2 separate regions of the Homo sapiens genome follow, and region 1 is linked to region 2. The links come from fine-mapping of genetic effects on gene expression. Tissue or cell type: nasal epithelium. Region 2 holds a variant in brackets; the other region holds the start of a gene. All regions are shown on one strand. Distances are from middle to middle.

Region 1 (9,206 bases), 34 kb before region 2:
CCTTCCCACAGGAAACATCAAGAAGCCCCAGCCAGGAGGGGCCAGGCTGCCAAGGCGGCTCCCCTGTTTATCTAGAGCCTTCGTTCCTGGCCATACCCCGGACTGCCCTCCTGTGCCTGATGTCCCCAGCTGGGGTCAGTCTCAACAGGAGCCAGTCTTCTGGAGCCTCTGGGCAGAACCCTCCATCAGAGTGGAAATCAGACGGGACCCCCTGCAGCTTCCCTGACCACGCCACTGACCAGCTATCTGGGGAAGTTTACTGTGAAGGGGTTTCTGCCTTTAGCAATGGGGTTCACTAAGGGGGTTCCCGAGGCCCAGGGCCAAGGCACTCCCACCGCCTACCTTAGCACAGGGTCTCTGCAGGACTGCGGGAGCCAGCGCTCCTGCCGCCCCTCTTGCCCCTCAGACCTTGCATCCACAGAAGCACAACCCAGCCAAACACCACAGCCTTCTCCAGAGCCGGCACTGTCCCGGCAACCAGGGGTGCCCCAGGCTAGCTCTTCTACCTCTGGGGCACCACGGACTCCCCTTGGCCACTCTTGGGACTTTGGTCCACGTCCTGAGCCACTGACCACGGCCAGTCTCTCTTTTTATATGTGCAGAAAAGTGTTTTTACACAAACTTTCTCATGGTTTGTAGGTATTTTTTTATAACCCCAGTGCTGAGGAGAAAGGAGGGGCAGTGGCTTCCCCGGCAGCAGCCCCATGATGGCTGAATCCGAAATCCTCGATGGGTCCAGCTTGATGTCTTTGCAGCTGCACCTATGGGAAGAAGTAGTCCTCTCTTCCTTCTCCTCTTCAGCTTTTTAAAAACAGTCCTCAGAGGATCCATGATCCCCAGCACTGTCCCATCCTCCACAAAGGCCCACAGGCATGCCTGTACTCTCTTTCATTAAGGTCTTGAAGTCAGGCTGCCCCCTCCCCAGCCCCCAGTTCTCTCCCCACCCCCTCACCCCACCCGGGGCTCACTCAGCCTGGCAGAGGAAGAAGGAAGGCAGACATCTCCGCAGCCACTCCTGGGCCTTTTATGTGCCGAGTTACCCCACTTGCCTTGGGCGTGTCCACTGAGCCTTCCCCAGCCAGTCTTGTTCTCAATTTTGTTTTGTTTTGTTTTGAGACGGAGTCTTGCTCTGTCACCCAGGCTGGAGTGCTATGGCTCGATCTTGGCTCACTGCAACCTCCACCTCCCAGGTTCAAGCAATTCTCTTGCCTCAGCCTCCCGAGTAGCTGGGATTACAGGTGCATGCCACCATGGCTGGCTAATTTTTGTATTTTTAGTAGAGATGGGGTTTCACCATATTGGTCAGGCTGATCTGGAACTTCTGACCTCAGGTGATCCACCTGCCTCAGCCTCCCAAAGTGCTGGGATTACAGGCGTGAGCAATCGTGCCCAGCCTTGTTCTTAATTTTGTATCATCCAGTCATCGCTAATATTACACGCACCTTCTCACTTAATCCTCACGACAAGCCTGTGAGGCAGATGCTCATTGTTCCCATCTTGATGAAACTTGAGTCTCAGGGAAGTGAAGTGACTTGCCCAGGGTCACTCAGGTAGAGTTGAGATTCAAACCCACATGTGGCTCCAAAGTCTGCATCTGGATTTGGGGGTGTTTTTTGGCATGGCACCCTCACCTCTCTCCCTGCCTGTTTTCCCCAAAGTGGAAAGGAAGGCCTTTCAAACCAGAGTGTCTCACTCCCCTCTGACCTCCAGACCAGATGGGGCATGAGCCAGCCAGCTCAGCCAGGCTCCCTGTGTCCTGGGAGGAAGTGTCCCCATCCCCCATGCCCCTTATGGGGAGGGAGGGCGTCTGATGCTCTCTCTCTGCCTCCCCCCCCATCCTGTCAGGCACAGGTGACGGGGGCAGCCCATGCGAGCCCTTCTCCTGCTGCTCTGGGAGGGCCAGTTCCACATTGAGCCAGCCTGGTCCCATGGAAAATGATGGCCTGGGCTTTCTGAGGCCTTATCTGATGCCTCTGCAGTTCATGTCCCCCACCAGGCCTCGAGGCTCAGGGTGGGAGAGGGCCCCGGGCTGCCCTGTCACTCCTCTAACACTTCCCTCCCCTGTCCCCAACATGCCCTGTAATAAAATTAGAGAAGACTAACTAGAGTGGTTCTAAGTGCTTTTCCTTTGAGTGGCATGTTGCTCAGCTCCGTCCTTCCATGGGGTGGCTCCCTCTTGGGGCAGAGTTGAGCTGGAATGCTTTCAGGTACTATCTTACCTATCGAAGGCTTGAGTGACTTGCCCAAAATAAGTTTTACGATAGAACAAGTGGTAGGACTTACTGTTTTGAGAATCTGGTGCTCTCTGTTGAGAGAGATCTGGGAGTTAAAATCATTGTCTTAAAAGCAGAGCCTGAGACAGGCATGAAGTGTTTTTTTGTTTGTTTGTTTTGTTTGTTTGGTGGGGCTGGGGGGGAGTGTACTTCCAGAAAAACCAGTAAAAGAAGGAAGGAAGCAGAAGAGGGAAAGGAAAAATGCTGAGCAGGAACAGTCTCAGCCCAGCCTTGGCCTGACCCACAGTGGAAGAGCTGTGGGGCATAAACCACACTGCAGAGCTGAACTGGCCTTTTGGACCTTTTATCAGTCATTGGCTTGGGAGGTGAAGGAAATTCCCAGGTAGGGAGCTCCGTTCTTCCTGCAAGGGGATCTGAGTGGGACACCAAATCAGCATCTACACCCAGGACAGACAGCCAGCGTGGACTTGCATGATCCGCCATCGCACAGGAGGGAAAGGTAATGATTAAAACACAATGTGCCATCCTGGGAAGAGGGCCAGACCTGGAAGTCAATCTTCAGCGTTTGAGATATGGTGGAGATCAGGGTGGACGACCTCTGAGGTCTCTAGCCAGGACCAGTCACATAATTTGCACAGCCCCGTGCAAAATGAAAACACAAGAACCCCTATTAGAAAATCATTTCAAGACGGCAACAGCAAAGTACTAAACCAAGTACAGGATTCTGAGCATGCGGCCCGTTGTGACTGCATGGGCTGTTCACCCATGAAACCAGCTCTGTCTCTGGCAGAGGGGACTGCAGGCTTTGGAACCAAGGAACTCCAGCCTGGGAGCCAGGCACAGCCCGAGGCTGTGCTGAAGGCAGAGAAGGAAATGTGACCCAGGAACTGCATGCCACAGACCAAGACAGTGAGGGCTGGAGCACAAAGAGGGAGTGGGTTAGTGAGCCTGGAAGGAATGTGGCTCTTCCCACAGAGCCTCTGGAGTCTTGTACATCAAGTACCCATCTAATAAGCAAACTCATTGAATATACCGTGTGTGTGTGTGTGTGTGTGTGTGTGTGTGTGTGTGTGTGTGAGAGAGAGAGAGAGAGGCTAAAATAGAAGAAAGCTGCAAAGTGCTGGAGGGCAGGAGTCAAGAGGAGAAAGAGGCCCATTCTGCGCATTCTTGCTGGAGAGAGGCTTTGCAAAGGGACCTGCCTGGGAACCAAGAACTGGGAAGGGGGCCAGGGTGAGGATTCTGAAGTTTGCCCTAGGGGTAGGAGCATATTTTAGGGGTCGAGCGACACACCCCTGGGCTTCCAGAAGTCGGATGGGGCTAAACGTGGAGAGCAACAAGCAGGGAGACGCGACGAATACCAGGCCGAGGGATCTCCAAACGCAGCCAACTCCTCCCGGGGACACAGACCCCGCGGGGGCACGGTCTCGATGGAGGGGAGTGTGCTCCGCGGTATCGGAGCCTACAGCCGCCAGCGCCTCGCCCACTCGGGGGCCGCGCTCCCCTCGCCACCGAGCTGGACCCGCCTCCTGAGGGTGCGCGGAGGTGCGCCTCGGTGCGCAGCTGCGGAGGATCGCTTCCGGGGGGCGGGTCAGCGGAAGTGAGGGCGGTTGAGGCTGGGCGGCCCAAGGTGGAAGGAGGGGCCGTGAGGTGAGAGAGTCCGGGAGCCCGAGCTTGAGGTGAGAAAGGTTCTAGGGAGGCGCGGAGGCGGGAGCGCGACCTTCCAGCCCGTTAGTAGACTGGGTCTACGTGCCGGGCGCTGTGCGGAGCCCGCAGCTCCTGTTCCCGCGCGAGTTCTCGCGGGAGCCGCAGCTGTCCGTCTCACTTGGCCCGGGGGAAACTGAGTCCCCGAAGGGTAGTTGCTCGTCGGAGTTCCCCAGCAAACAGTGACCAAGCCAGACCTCAGGCTTCTAGTTTCGGCTTCGCTGCTTGACGGGCCGGGCTGCCCCGCCGCGCATTCTGAGACCTGGCCGCGGCTCGGAGGCTTCCGCGCACTCGGGTCCGGGTCCTGTGGGTCCAAGGGCCGCTGGGCAGGCGGCGAGCACTTGGCCGACCTTGGCCCAGGTCGGGTCGTCTGCCGCGGGGGAGGGGCGACTCGCCCTGGCGGGTCCCCGCGGGGAGAGGGTCCGCGCGGGTCTCCGGCCACTGCTGCGCGCGGCAAAGTTTCACTGAGCGCGGCGGCCTCCGTGGGGGCCCCCGGGACCAGGGGTGCTGAGCAGGGCCCTGCGCTGGAGGAGCTCCCGTTCTCCTGAGGGGACGCCTGTCAGCAGACAGCAACTGCAGCCTCCGGAGGGCTGCGGGGCGCAGAGGTGACAAGACCCACCGGTGCTGCCGGCGAACCGGGGGAAGATCTTCTAGCCAGTGACACTTGGGGGCGGGGGTGACAGCTGAGTTGGTGTTCCCCTTCATTCGTTTAGTTCAGCGCGTTGAAGCGCTCACTGTGTCCTAGGCAGACACCGTGCTGTGCGCGGGGATCACAGTTATCTAGTTCCTCTCGCGAGGACTCCGAGGGACAGGCAGGGTGCTGCGGAGCGCACAGGAAAGGACCTGACCCTGTCGCAGGGAAGGAAGGTGATGCTTAAGCTGAGCTCTGAGGAATGATGAAGAATGAGCTCGGCGAAGGGGGTGCTGGTGTTTGATGCAGGGCTCAGAGGTGGGCCCAGTGTTGGGGGTTGAGGGCCAGTGTGGCTGGAGGGCAAGGGGGAGAGCAGGAGGGCTGGCTGCGAAGCGTGCAGGCCTTGGTGCTCAGTGAATGTGGTCTAGAGACGGCAGAGAAAGATGGGTTTGGGACTGATTGTGGATTTTATCCTGTGTTGGCTCTAGTAAGCCAGTTTTAAACGGATGAGCGATGTGATTAACTGTGTTTGGGAAGGATTCCTCTGGCTGTGTGTGAGGGTTAGGCCCGGCTGGGTCTTTGGAGGTAAGGTCGGAGAGGAAGTGGCAGTAAGCACCGTTAGTGCAATTTGTGGCCGACACGGACATTCAGCACAGAGCCTGGCACACAGAGGGACTCTGATAATAAAGGCTTGAACTGAGCCGAGAAGATGGAGCCCACGCAGGAGGTGGCAGGACCTGGACCAGGCTTTGGGTGCTTTGCACTGGCATGACCACTGAGTGACCTTAGACAAGTGCCTTCCCCTGTCCAACTTCCTTTCCCCATGTGTATCGTGAAGTGAATGACACCTCGTCTCCCAAGGGTAGAAGAGGGGACCCTCCACAGGAGGTCTCCAGAAAGAGCTGCTTTGTCAGTCTAGTCTATCTCCCATTCAGAGCCTGTCCAGGGCTCCCCAGTGACCCGGACCTCATGACTTGCCCCCTACTTTTGTAGCTTTATCATGCTCTGCTCCTCTTTCCATGTCCTTCACCTTCTTGTGCTGGACCTGTGCTCTTGCTGTTTTGTCTTCATTTCCTACTCCCTCGCAACTTACTACAGGGCACTAGGGCCAGAGCTCTGACCTCATCTGGCCACCTGCCTAATGCTACTCAGCCTTTGCTAGAAGTATGTATTCATGTCCTATCACTCTGCTGGACAGCGAGTTCCTTGAGAGCATGACTGTGTCTTACTCCTTCCATAGCCCCTACGGTGCCCAGCACAAGGCCTGGCACAAGTGGGTACTGTTGGTGTTTGATGAACAAGTGAATGAACGAGCACACTGATTGCATCTGCTCACCATGCAAGGACTGCTGTGAAGAGCAGTCAGATGTCACCTCACCCATCTGTGTCATGTTTTAACAGTTCATTAAGCACTCAACCCCATTTCACTCATTGACCCTTAAGGTAGCCTCCAGTGGCAGCTTTTCCTGTCTCCTTTTTCCAGATGGAAAAACCAACATTCAGAAAAGTTAAATAACTTGCCTGTAGCTACAAAGCCAGAAGGTGGCTGAGCCAGGATAAACTTTTTTGGCTCTTTTTCTCTGTAGCTCATGAGACTGAGATTGGCATGAGCTGGTGTTCGTTCTCCTATTTTCTCTGATCTCTCCCTTTGCAAGGGCCCAGCAGTGCTTTTACATCTCATCTTCAAGAATGAATCCTGGGCTTGGATAGTACTTATAATTTGGCTAGATGAGCTTTGTAGCTACCAAGGATTCTATTTGCATCTTTAGAAGTTTTGCCTCAAGAAACCTGAGAGCCCAGGAAGGCTCTTGGGTTGGCCAAGCTCACTAGGCAAATCTTTTTTTTTTTTTTTTTTTTTTGAGACGGAGTCTCGCTCTGTCACCCAGGTTGGAGTGCAGTGGCGTGATCTCGGCTCACTGCAAGCTCTGCCTCCTGGGTTCACGCCATTCTCCTGCCTCAGCCTCCCAAGTAGCTGGTACTACAGGTGCCCGCCACCACACCTGGCTAATTTTTTGTATTTTTAGTAGAGACAGGGCTTCACTGTGTTAGCCAGGATGGTCTCGCTCTCCTGACCTCGTGATCCGCCCACCTCGGCCTCCCAAAGTGCTGGGATTACAGATGTGAGCCACTGCGCCTGGCCGCAGATCTTTAACAGAACCTTTAAGAGTCTGGACTTAGAGCTAAGTGTTGGGTGAGGGCAGCCTCTTGGGCTGGTTTTCTCCCCTGTGAAGTCATGGCTCTGCAGGGCCTGGTTTTTTGGGGCTTGTGTGGTGACCATTAAATCCCCACTGTGGGGGGTTGTTTCACAAGAGGGAAATCTGGTGCTCCTCCAGATGGCCTGATATGAAGGAGTCACGCCTCCCGCCTCCCGGAGCTGCCCAGTGGCTGCCTTGTCCTTCAAGTGCAGGAGCTGGTTCAAATGTCAGGAATGGAAGCCACTGTGGTAAGGGGCATTCCCAGGGCAGGGGTATGGTGGGGAAGGTTGGGTGCTGGGCCTGCTGAAGTACTGTAAAAGGTTCTGAGACTCTCCAGTTGAGCACTCCTTTCTCCAGAGGCCTGGAATTGGAGCAAGGCCACCGTTTCACTCCCTCCCCCTAAGAAGAACCAACTATGATCCTGGGGCACTTCAGGAGTCAGTGTATGTCTGCCTTTCTGTACAGAGGACGGGAAGGAAAGCCTGGATAATCTCTACACTCAGCTACTTCCTCTCCCCTTCCCTGACCCTCCCAACATTGACTGCCTTAGCAGCAGCAGGTATTCCCTTGGGTGGCTGGCCAGGGTGTAGGCTGGCAACTGGGGAACCTGCCCTCACTATAATTGAGAGTTGACTTGCCCCTAGAGAGTGCCCTGTCCCTAGGTTTGTGGAATTCAGTCTCCACAAACCTAGAGAGGAGAGGACAAGGACAGTAGTTGGATTCATTCTCTGGGGTTGTAGCTGTCTCCGTCTCTTTGCTCCAGACCATCCCAATCTGGCAAAACAAGCCACATGGGGCTGCTCGAAGTGTAGTAAGAAGAATTGGGACCAACCTACCCTTGAAGCCGTGTGCCCGGGCGTCCTTTGAGGTGAGTATGTTGGAAGGGCAGGAGAGTAGAGGCTCAGACAGTGCTGCTTCTGTGCCCCAAACCCCTTGGTACTGCCCAAGTAGGTTGTTTCCTGGTCACTTTTCATTCTGTTATGAAATATTTGTTAAATGCTTATAAGATATCCTGGTCACTGTGTCCTCCTGAGTGCATACAAACCTGTGACCACAAGGAACCTGACAGGTCCCCCACATGGGACACTGACTATTGTGATTTTTGAGTTGAACTCTGCTTTTCTTCACCAGCCCTAAGAATTGACCATGTAGCCAGTATTTTTATTTTATTATTTTTTGAGATGAGGTCTCCCTATGTTGCCCAGGCTAGGTCTTAAACTCCTGGGCTCAAGCAGTCCTCCTGCCTCAGCCTCCTATGTAGCTGGGATTACAGGCACAAGCCACCATGCCCAGCTCCACTATTTTTAGTGTTTCTCTGAGGCCATAATTCCTCAGCCTTCTCTTTTTGGCCAATCTGGGCATCCTTTACTGGGGTGCTTTGGTCTTACCTCTGTGTCTAGGGATCCTTTAGCACCCACTCAGCAGCAGAGATTCCTACCTGGCCCAGGTCTCTTGAGACCCCTTCTGTGGTAGAAAGCTAAGTAGCATTTATTAGTCCCAGCTGCCTCCCTCTAGGAACTAAATGGTTAAGCACCAGCCCCAAACTATATGGTTCAGATGTGTGCATTTGGAGAGCTGGGATACAAAAGAAATACTTGTGCTTTCTACCCACACAGAGGAGATAGAAATATGTGCATGAAAGGATGTGGGCCCAGGTAGAAACAGAAATGAAGGAGCCAAATCTGTATAAAAGATGCTAAGAAGCAGAGTCTGTAGGAACTGGATCTGGAATTAGAAGAGGTGTCAGGGTTGGTATTAGGGTCAGGAATGGAGTTGGAAGTGTCGCAGGGGTAGGGGGCAGGAAAAGCTGTCCCAGTATTCAGATTGCCAGCTATCCAGAATTGTCTAAAGATCCTGGGCAGGAACTGGTCCTAACTTGCCTCAGAAGCATCAGAAAAAAAAAAGGGAGACAGCTAGGGAGTGTGGCTCACTGCATAGAGGCCGTCCCCACACTTGGCTATACCCTCTTCAGTTCTTTGGCCAGATGCTGGGCAGAGACAATCAAGGGCACAGGCTCTCACAGAGCAGGAATGTATGTGAGCAGTATTGGTAATACTAGATAACATTTACTGAGCACATACTATGTGTCAGGCACTGTGCTGTACTTTATATTTGTTTACTCATTTAATTGCCAAGAGCAAAGGAGCATTCAGGGCTAATCAGGAAAACAAATGGAGGCTTCCCCCAAATGCCCTATTTTAGCACTAGTTCCTGGGTCACTGGAAGTTCTTCTCTGTGTGACCTTGGAGTATCACTTAACTCCTGTGAGTCCCAGGTTTCCTATCTAAATGCAGGAGCGATCAATCCTGGATCCATCTACCATACCAAATAATTTGTAGCAGAAACAGTTGAATCTTACTTGTGTGTAAATATGCATTTATTATTATTATTAAATTACCTTAAATATTATTTAAGGGACTCTTACCAATTTATTTTGAAAATTTA
Region 2 (10,686 bases):
CTAACTCTTCCACAAAGCGTCTTTCTTTTCATTTTAACAGCTTTATTAATAGAGATACAATTCACATACCATAAAATTTGCCCATTTAAGTATACAGTTAAGTTTTAGTATACTTATGAAGTTGTGTAATTATCACCGAATCTAACTTTAGAACAGTTCTCATTTCCCCCAAAAGAAACCCTCTAGCCTTAGCAGTCATTCCTCATTCCCATCCCACCCCAGGCCCAGAAAATCACTTACTTTCTTTTCTACAGATTTGCCTATTCTGGGCCTTTTATGTGTCATACAATATCTGGTCTTTTGTGACTGGCTTCTTTCACTGAGCCTAATGCTTGGAGGTCCATCCATGTTGTAGCATGTATCAATACTTCACTCTTTTTTATTGCCAAATAATATTCCATTATATAGATATACCATTTTGTGTTATTTTGTTTGTTTGTTTGAGACAGGGTCTTATTCTGTCACCTAGGCTGGAGTGCAGCTACGCAATCTTGGCTCACTGCAACCTCTGCCTCCTGGGTTCAAGCAATTCTTCTGCCTCAGTCTCCTGAGCAGCTGGAATTACAGGTGCCTGCCACCATGCCTGGCTAAGTTTTGTATTTTTTTAGTAGAGACGGGGTTTCATCATATTGGCCAGGCTGGTCTTGAACTCCTGACCTCAAGTGATCTGCCCCATCTCAGCCTCCCAAAGTGCTGGGATTACAGGCGTGAGCCACTGCACTCAACCCTAGATATACCATTTTGTTTACCAGTTGATGTTCATCAGTTGATGACTACTTGGATTGTTTCCACTTTTTGGCTATTATGAGAAACGCTGCTAAGAACATTTGTGTGCAAGTTTTTGTGCAGACATACGTTTTCCTATCTCTCGGGGGTACATACTTAAATGGGCAAATTTTATGGTATATGAATCATATCTCAATAAAGCTATGATCACATCAGCACTCTGGGTGTGATCATAGCACTCCAGTCTGGGTAACAAATTGAGACCCTGATTCTAAAAACAACAACAACAACAACAACAAAACAACTGACCATAAATACAAGGGTTTACTTCTGGACTTTCAATTCCTTTGATCTATAATGTGTCTACCTTTATGACAGTATCAAACCATCTTAAGTACTGTAACTGTATAGTAATTTTGAAATCAGTACATGTGATTCCTCCAACTTTGTTACTCTTCAAGCTTGTTTTGGCTTTTCTAGATCCCTCGGATGTCATGAATTTCTGGATCAGACTGTCAGTATCTGCAAAAAGGACAACTGAGATGTTGATAAGGACTGCACTGATTCTGTAGATCAATTGGGGCATATTCCTATCTTAAGTCTTCTGATCAATGAACATGTAATGTCTTTCCATTATTTACATTTTTAATTTCTTTCAATGAGTTTTATAGTTTCCAGTGTATGTCTTGCACTGTTTTGTTAAATTTATGCCTAAGTATTTTATTCTATTTGATTCTATTGTAAATGAAATTATTTCCTTAGTTTCATTTTTTGGATAAAATCCTACCATACGGAAGTACAATTGATTTTTGTATCCTGTCACACTGCTGAACTCATTTTTTCTAATTTTTTTAAGTGGATTCCTTAGGATTTTCTACACATAAGATCATATTTTCTGCAAACAGATAATTTTACTTCTTCCTTTTTAATCTGGGTATCTTTTATTTCTTTTTCTTGCTAAATTTCCCTGCATAAAATCTCTAGTGCAATGGTAAACAGAGTGGCAAGATCTTTGTCTTGTTGCTGATTTAGGAGTGGAAACATTCAGTCTTCTTCCATTAAGTATGATGTTAACTGGGTTTTCATAGATGCCCTTTGTGAGGCTGAGAAAATTCCCTTTTATTCCTGGTCTGTTGAGTGTTTTAATCACAAAATGATGTCAGTCAAAATGCTTTTTCTGTGTCTATTGACATGATTATGTGGTTTTTGTCTTTTATGCTATTAGTATGGTATATTAATTGGTTTTCAAATTTAAACCAACCTTGCATTCCTAAGATAAATTCCTCTTGGTCATGATTTATAATCCTTTTTATGTGTTGCTAAATTTGTTTTGCTTGTATTTTGTTGAGTATTTTTGTATCTGTATTCATAAAGGATACCAGACCATAATTTCCTTTTCTTGTGATATCTTGGTCTAGTTTTAGTATCAGAGTAATACTGGCCTCAAAATGAGTTGGAAAGTGTTCCCTCCTCTTCTATTCTATTTTTTTGAGAGAGTCTGAAGGATTGGTATAATTCTTTAAATGTTTGGTAGAATTCACCAGAGAAACTATCTGGACCTGGACTTTTCTTTGCAGGAAGTTTTAAAATTACTAATTCAATCTCTTCGTTATAGGTCTATAGACCAAAGGAATTGAACTGAAAGTCCAGAAGTAAACCCTTACATTTACAGTCAGTTGATTTTTATCTATTTCTTCTTGAGGCAAGTTTGGTAGTCTGTGACTTCCTAGGAATTTGTCCATTTCATCTAAGTTATCTAAATGTGTTAGCATACAGTTGTTTATAGTATTCTAATTATTTTTATCTCTTTATTTTCTTTTTTAGACAGTCTCACTCTGTCGCCCAGGCTGGAATGCAGTGGCACAATCTCGGCTCACTGCAACCTGTCTCCCGGGTTCAAGTGATTCTCCTGCCTCAGCCTCCCGAGTAGCTGGGACTACAGGCACACACCAACATAACTGGCTAATTTCTGTATTTTTAGTAGAGATAGGGTTTTTTCAGCCACCTCACCTGGCCTCTTGCTGACTGACTGATTGAGACAGGGTGTCACTCTCTTACCCAGGCTGGAGTGCAGTGGCTCAATCACCGCTCAGTGCAGCCTCAACCTCCCTGGGTTCAGTGATCCTTACACCTCAGCCTCCTGAGTAGCTGGAACTACAGGCATGTACCACCACATCAGGCTAATTTTTGTATTTTTTGGTAGAGATAGGGTCTCCCTATGTTGCCCAGGCTGGTCTTGAACTCCTGGGTTCAGGGGATCCTCCCACCTCAGCCTCCTAAAATGCTGGGATTATAGGTGTGAGCCACTGTGCTCTCTTTTATTCTTGATCAGTCTAGCTAAAGGTGTGTTGAGTTTGTTGATCTTTGCAAAGAACCAACTTTTGATGTTGATTGTTTTTCTTTACTATTTATTTTCACTCTAAATTGTATTATTTCCTTCCTTCTGGTCACTATGGGTTTAGATTGCTCTTCTTTTTCTAGTTTCTTAAGGTAGAAGATTAGATTATTTAAGGTTTTTTTTTTTGTTGTTTTTTTTTTTGAGACAGGAGTTTCACTCTTGTTGCCCAGGCTGGAGTTCACTGCAACCTCCGCCTCCTGGGTTCAAGCAGTTCTCCTGCCTCAGCCTCCTGAGTAGCTGGGATTACAGGCGCCTGCCACCACGCACAGCTAATTTTGGTATTTTTAGTAGAGACAGGGTTTCGCCGTGTTGGCCAGGTTGGTCTTAAACTCCTGACCTCGGGTGATCCACCCACCTCAGCCTCCCAAACTGTTGGGATTACAGGTGTGAGCCACTGCGCCTGGCCGAGATTCTTTTTAATAAAAGCATTTACAGCTATACATATCCCTCTAAGCATAGTGTTAGTTGCATCCCATAAATCTTGGTGCATTATATTTTTGTTTTCATTTATCTCAAAGTACTTTCTATTATAATTTTCCTTTTGATTTCTTCTTTGACTCTTGGTTATTTAGAAATGTGCTGTTTAATTTCAACCTATTTGTGGATTTTCTACTTTTTCTTCTGTTACTGATTTCTACTTTCATTCCATTATGGAGAATATACTTTGTATGATTTCCATCTTTCTAAATTTATTGAGATTTGTTTTGTGACCTAGTATTTGTGGAGAATGTTCCATGTGTCATGGAGAAGACTATGTATTCTGCTGTTGTTGGGTAGACTGTTCTATATTTTTGTCTGTTAGGTCTACCTGGTTTATAGTATTGTTCAAATCTTTTTTCCTTGTTGATATCCATGATTGAAAGTGGGTATTAAAGTTTCCAAATATTGTTCACAAAATCTTTCTTAATATTAGCTGTATTAGTGTTGTATTGCTTTGTAACGAATTACCACAAAACTTAGAAGCTTAAAACAATAAACATTCGGCCGGCGTGGTGGCTCATGCCTGTAATCCCAGCACTTTGGGTGGCGGAGGCAGGTGGATCACCTGAGGTCAGGAGTTTGAGAACAGCCTGACCAACATGGTGAAATCTCATCTCTACTAAAAATACCAAAATTAGCCAGGTGTGGTGGTGGGCGCCTGTAATTCCAGCTACTAAGGAGGGTGAGGCAGGAGAATCGTCTGAACCCATGAGTCAAAGTTTGCAGCGAGCTGAGATCGTGCCACTGCACCCCAGCCTGTGTGACAGAGCAACTCTGTCTCAAAAAACAAACAAACAAACAAAAACAAAACAAAAAACATTAATCTCACACAGCTTCTCAGGGTGGTTAGCTTGGTGGTTCTGGCTCAGGGTCTCTCATGAGGTTGCATTCATGATGTTGGCTCAGGCTACAATCATCTGAAGCCTTAACTGGGGCTGAAAGGATCCACTTCCAAGATAGCTCACTAACATGGCTGTTAACAGGCTTCATGTAGCAACATGGAAGCTAGCTTTTCCCAGAGTGAGCAATCAAAAGAGGTCACAAAGCCATTTATGACCCAATCTGAAAAAGTCACACACCATCAGTTCCCGCAATATTCTATTCATTAGAAGCAAGTTACGGCCCGG[C/T]GCAGTGGCTCACGCCTGTAATCCCTTTGGGAGGCCAAGGCAGGTAGATCACCTGAGGTCAGGAGTTTGAGACCAGTCTAGCCAACATGGTAAAACCCCGTCTGTACTAAAAATACAAAAATTAGCCGGGCATAGTGGTGCACGCCTGTAATCCCAGTTACTCATAAGGTGAGGCAGGAGAACTGCTTCAACCCAGCAGGTGGAGGTTGCAGTGAGCCAAGATCATGCCACTGCACTCCAGTCTAGGCAACAGAGTAAGACTCCATCTCAAAAAAATAAACAAACAAATAAATAAATAAATAGCAAGTTACCAAGTCCAATCCAAACATAAAGGCAGGAGAATGAAGCTCCACCTCTTGAAGGGAAGAGTGTGGACATATTTTGAAACCATCACAGTCCACCTTCTGGCCCAAATTACTTACATTCTTCCCATATGCAAAATATACTCCCTCCCTCCCAAAACTCTACAAAAATCTCATCTCTTTATAGCATTAGCTTAATATCAAGGATACTAGCATCTAAAACAGGTACATGTGAAGTCCAAAAATGTAGTTTAAATACAGTTCCTTTAGATCTGCAGGCCTGTGAACTAAAGACAAATTATCTTCCCTCATACATCTAACATACAATTTGGAACGGGCATAACTGTTACAGACATTATGTTCAAAAAGGGGGAGATAAGAGGTATAAGTGGGTCACCAGTCTGAAATCCAGCCAGGCATTTATTATCTCACAACTTCTGTGCATGAAGAATTTGGGTTAAGCCTAGATGGGTGGGTCTGTCTCACAGTCTAGTGAGGTTGCATTCAAAATATCAACTAGAGGTGCGGTATCCAATTTCAAGATGACTCCCTCACTCACACAACTGTTGGCAAAAGGCCTCAGCTCCTCACTGCATGAACCTCTCCACAGAGCTGCTTGAGTGTCCTCACAACATGACAGCTGGCTTCTCCCAAAGAGACAATGAAGCTAAAGCTGCAATGTCATTTATGACCTAGATTCAGAATTCTTTCTTTTTTTTTTTTTTTTTTTTTGAGATGGGGTCTCACTCTATCACCCAGTCTGGAGTGCAGTGGCGCAACCTTGGCTCACTGCAACCTCCACCTTCTGGCTTCAAGCAATTCTCCTGCCTCAGCCTCCTGAGTAGCTGGGATTATAGGCACCCGTCACCAAGCCTGGCTAATTTTAGTATTTTCAGTAGAGATGGGGTTTCACCATGTTGGCCAGGCTTAGACTCAGAATTCTAACACTATAACCTACCACATTCTATTCATTGGAGTCACTAAATACTGTCTGTGCTCAAGGAAAGGGGAATTAAGTTCTTTTAGAAGGAAAAGTACTGAAGAATTTGTGGACGTACATTAAAACTGCCACACTCCTCCGCCCATGATAAACTTTTTTTATTTTTTGTGGAGTTGGGGTCTCATTATATTGCCCAGGCTGGTCCCAAATTCCTGGCTTCCCAAAGTGCTGAGCTTCCCAAAGTGCTGAGATTACAGGCACGAGCCACAGTCCTGTTTAATTTTTTTTAAACAAACATATATTATTTTCATAATATAAAAACAAAATGAAAGCAAATCTAGTATACATACAAGGCCTAAGTAACGAGGCCAAATGGGTAGTTCAAATTAGGAGAGAAGCAAACTCACTCCAAACATAGACTACTATTGTCTACTGGCCAGACTACAAACTACTCATTCTCTCAAAAATAGCAAACCATTCTGTTTAGAGATCAAGGGGGAAGAGGCATGTTTTCAAAAACACAGACACTAGGTACTGCCCATCCATCCCTGACATTAAAACTCAAAGGACTGTATGCCTATTTGATAGCCACTCTAGGAAGAGGCACCTTGTGAAAGGGAATCTTTAGTACTCTTCTCTGGGTTGGAAGTCAGAGTAATAGTTAATAGTCAGGAACCAAAGATTTTAACAAGTATCTTTGGGAATCAAGTAACAAGAAGGAGAAATGGTGTTAGTGAGTATGGTCATAAGGTCCAGGCCTCTAGAAATCAGAATAAGTTAAGGGCCTAGAGATCCTGGAGGATTCTATAACTGTCATGTACTACATCAACAAGACAAATGTTTTCACCATAACATTGCCAGGGAAAAAGGCAGGATTTGGGGGTATAAGAATTATAGACAGACCAGGCACGGTGGCTCATGCCTGTAATCCCAGCACTTTGGGAGGCTGAGGCAGGTGGATCACTTGAGGCCAGGAGTTCGAGACCAGCCTGGTCAACATGGTGAAACCCTGTCTCTACTAAAAATACAAAAATTAGCCAGGTATGGTGGCACACGCCTGTAATCCCAGCTACTCATGAGGCTGAGGCAGAGAATCGCTTGAATCTGGGAGGCAGAGGCTGCAGTGACCCGAGATCATGCCACTACACTCCAGCCTGGGTGACAGAGCAAGACTCCATCTCAAAAAAAAAAAAACAAAACAAACAATAAAACAAGATTAGGCTGGGCGTAGTGGCTCACGCCTGTAATCCCAGGAGGCCGAGGCAGGTGGATCACCTCAGGTTGGGAGTTCAAGACCAGCCTAACCAACATGGAGAAACCCCGTCTCTACTAAAAATACAAATTCACCTGGGCAAGGTGGTGCATGCCTGTAATCCCAGCTACTCTGGAGACTGAGGCAGGGGAACTGCTTGAACCCAGGAGGTGGAGGTTGCAGTGAGCTGAGATCGCACCACTGCACTCCAGCCCGGGCAACAAGAGCAAGACTCCATTTCGGAAAACAACAACAACAACAACAACAACAAAACAGAATTATAGACAGAGAGACAAATATTGGCTCTCCTCTTCCCTGTGGAATATTCCCTTTCTCGCTCTCCTGAACTCTTCCTAATTCTATTTCTGTTCTCTTTCTAAATTAAACTGGTGGCTGGGTGCAGTGGCTCACACCTGTAATCCCAGCACTTTGAGAAGCCACGGTGGGCAGATCACTTGAGCTCAGGAGTTCAAGACCAGCCTAGGTAACACAGCGAAACCCCGTCTCTACAAAAAAAAAAAATACAAAAAATGAGCTGGGCTTTGTGGCACTATGCCTGTAGTCCCAGCTACTCGGGAGGATGAGGCAAGAGGATCACCTGGAGCCCGGGGGCGTTGAGGCTGTAGGTAGTCGTGATTACGCCACCGCACTCTAGCCTGGGTGACGGACTGAGGCCTGTCTCCAAAATTAACTAACAAATCAAAGTGGTATACAAGTTTCCCACGCATCCCATGTCATTCAAGAATGTATTCAAAGGGTACAAATGGCTTATTCCTAATTCAAGGAGTAATAAATAGCTATTGCACATTTTGATTTTTTTTTTTTTTTTTTTGAGACTGAGTCTTCTGTCACCCAGGCTGGAGTGCAGTGGCACGATCTCGGCTCACTGCAACCTCCACCTCCTGGGTTCAAGCAATTCTCCTGTCTCAGCCTCCCGAGTAGCTGGGATTACAGGTACCTGCCACCACGCCCAGCAAATTTTTGTATTTTTTATAGGAGAGACGGGGTTTCACCATGTTGGCCAGGCCGGTCTCGAACTCCTGACCTCAGGTGATCCGCCCGCCTCGGCCTCCCAAAGTACTAGGATTACAGGCGTGAGCCACCGCACCCGGCCATTTTGATAATTTTTGAAAAAATAAAACAATCGGCCAGGCACGGTAGCTCAAGCCTGTAATCTCAGCACTTTGGGAGGCCGAGACGGGCGGATCACTTGAGGTCAGGAGTTCAAGACCAGCCTGGCCAACATAGTGAAACCCTGTCTCTACTAAAAATACAAAAATCAGCCGAGCGTAGTGGCGGGCGCCTGTAGTCCCAGCTACTCGGGAGGCTGAGGCGGAAGAATCGCTTGAACCCGGGAGGCAGAGGTTGCAGTGAGCTTAGATCGCGCCACTGCACTCCAGCACGAGCAACAAGAGTGAAACTCCATCTCAAAAATAACAATAATAATAATATGCCGGGCGCAGTGGCTCACGCCTGTAATCCCAGCACTCTGGGAGGCTGAGGCGGGCAGATCACGAGGTCAGGAGAGCGAGACCATCCTGGCTAACACGGTGAAAACCTGTCTCTACTAAAAATACAAAAAATTAGCCGGGCGTGGTGGTGGCCGCCTGTAGTCCCAGCTACTCAGGAGGCTGAGGCAGGAGAATGGCGTGAACCCCGGAGGTGGGGCTTGCAGGGAACTGAGATTGTGTCACTGCACTCCAGCCTGGGCGACAGAGCAAGACTCCATCTCAAAAAATAATAATAATAAATAATAATAATAAAATGATCAAATTTCTTATCTATAAAACCAGGATAATGACAAAATCTACTTTACTGAATTTTGGTGAGTACCTGCCATTGATAAAGTGTATAAAGTCTCGGCAAAATGCCTGACACATAGAAAGCACTCAATAAAGGTTAGGTATTGTTGTTATTATTTATACACCTCTTTTCTTCCCTATAAGACTGTGAGCAACCTGAGAGCAAGAATCTTGCCCCTAGTGTCTGTTTTGAGCCTGTTTTCCGTATGTAAAATGGGTATCATTACACTATCTACCATATAGAATTGTACCAAACAAGGTAACATACCTAAAACACTTAGCACCAGCATAAAATGCTCAATAAACATGAATGATTATTATGTCGCACTTTTGTTTCTTTACAGTGACTGAAGAGCATCTTGCCTAGGTGACAGACCTGAATGTGATTTCCAGCTCCTTCTAGTTAGGCGGGCCTAGGTTAGTTACTGAACCTCAGTTTCCTCATTCCCAGCAAGAATGACGACACATATAACGCATATTCAGTATCTAATGCAGTATCCGGCACCCAGTGACTGCTCAGTACATAGGAGGCCAGCTCCCCTTCCCATAGCTTCTACTTTTCCCCTCAAAGTTACCGGTTCTGGGCAGGTAGTTGGCCTGCAACTTGGCAAATTGGGTGGAAACAGACCCCGGGGTGAGAATTTCCCCAATTTGCATTCGCATCCATCTCCCAATGCTCCAGCCTCTACTAGGACGTCTCGCAGGGACTGTGGCCTCCTAGGGAGCCTGGTCAGTTCAACTGCTCCGAGCGAACTTTCCCTCCGCCTCTCCCACACCTGAACCTTCGCCGCCCCTCCCTGCGCACCGCTCCTCCAGACCCCCCAACAGCACGCTCTTTCCTTCCGTCCCTCCCATCCTCCCCAAGCCCCGTTTTTCAACCTTCTTCAGACCACAATCCCTCTCGCCTGTGAATCCCCAACGCTGTTCCCTTCTCTGTCCCCGACTTCGCTTTCATCATCTCCAGGTGTCCCCCAAACTCCTCCCGTCTTACGCCTCCAGGCCCTACCTGGTTCCCAACGCCCTCTCATCCCCCAGCGTCCCACCTGCACTTTCCGCCTCTTCAGCGCCGCCGCGTCCAGCCACACGCCGCAGGCCTCCTCCTCGGGGCCTGTCCGCCTCATGGCCGCTGAGGAGACGAAGCCGGCAGGACGCCGGCGCAGGCTCCCGGCGCCTCAGGGAACGCCAGAACCGCGGCCGCCGACGTTCGGATCTCGCGCCAACGCTGGGGGCGGGGCTACGTCGCGACCGCCCCGGGCGCCAGCCCCGCCCCGGCAAGGCCCTGGCCCCCTTCGCTGTGCCCCGCCCACGCACTAACTTTCGCGGCCGGTCCCTTGAGTGCGTGCGGCATATTTCCCTGCGCGGAGGAGTGCGTGTTCTTTCTGATCCGCTCTTTCAAGAGCGGATTCGGAAGCTGCTGTGTGAACGGTTCTCGACAGCCTCAGAAATGTACATTTTCTTTTTGCTGTATTGAAAATTTCTTACAGTATTTCCCGGGCTTAGGAATTTGTTCGTGTCATCGCTGAATCTTCGCGATCACCCCCAGAAGGAAGTGGCTGAGCCGAGATCAGGCCCGTCGACTCCAGACCAGGGGTCCTCGACCTAAGTGGTTACCAGACACTCGAGTGTGCGAACAACTTTGGTAATTTTTTTTTTTTAATG

The links. PIP is the estimated chance that this variant, and not a neighbour inherited with it, causes the effect.
Region 1: it holds the start of MTFR1L, and the variant in region 2 is fine-mapped to the expression of MTFR1L in nasal epithelium (TOPMed, PIP 0.94).

Annotation. Positions count from the first base shown.
Region 1 is chr1:25,816,120-25,825,325 of GRCh38, forward strand. It overlaps MTFR1L (mitochondrial fission regulator 1 like), which reads left to right and starts at 3,835. Exons shown (of 7, transcript NM_001099625.2): 1 at 3,835-3,910; 2 at 6,900-7,009; 3 at 7,525-7,629. The coding sequence starts at 6,986. SELENON (selenoprotein N) reads left to right here. Exons shown (of 12, transcript NM_206926.2): 12 at 1-2,102. It overlaps LOC646471 (a long non-coding RNA gene), which reads right to left and starts at 7,487. Exons shown (of 1, transcript NR_024498.1): 1 at 3,835-7,487. RefSeq lists enhancers at 1,878-2,378, 4,021-4,160, 4,541-4,630 and silencers at 3,621-3,810, 4,261-4,430.
Region 2 is chr1:25,849,210-25,859,895 of GRCh38, forward strand. It overlaps AUNIP (aurora kinase A and ninein interacting protein), which reads right to left and starts at 10,248. Exons shown (of 3, transcript NM_024037.3): 1 at 10,071-10,248. The coding sequence starts at 10,148. RefSeq lists enhancers at 9,903-10,528, 10,426-10,655, 10,529-10,686 and a silencer at 10,146-10,405. The variant C/T (reference allele first, on the strand shown) is at 4,732.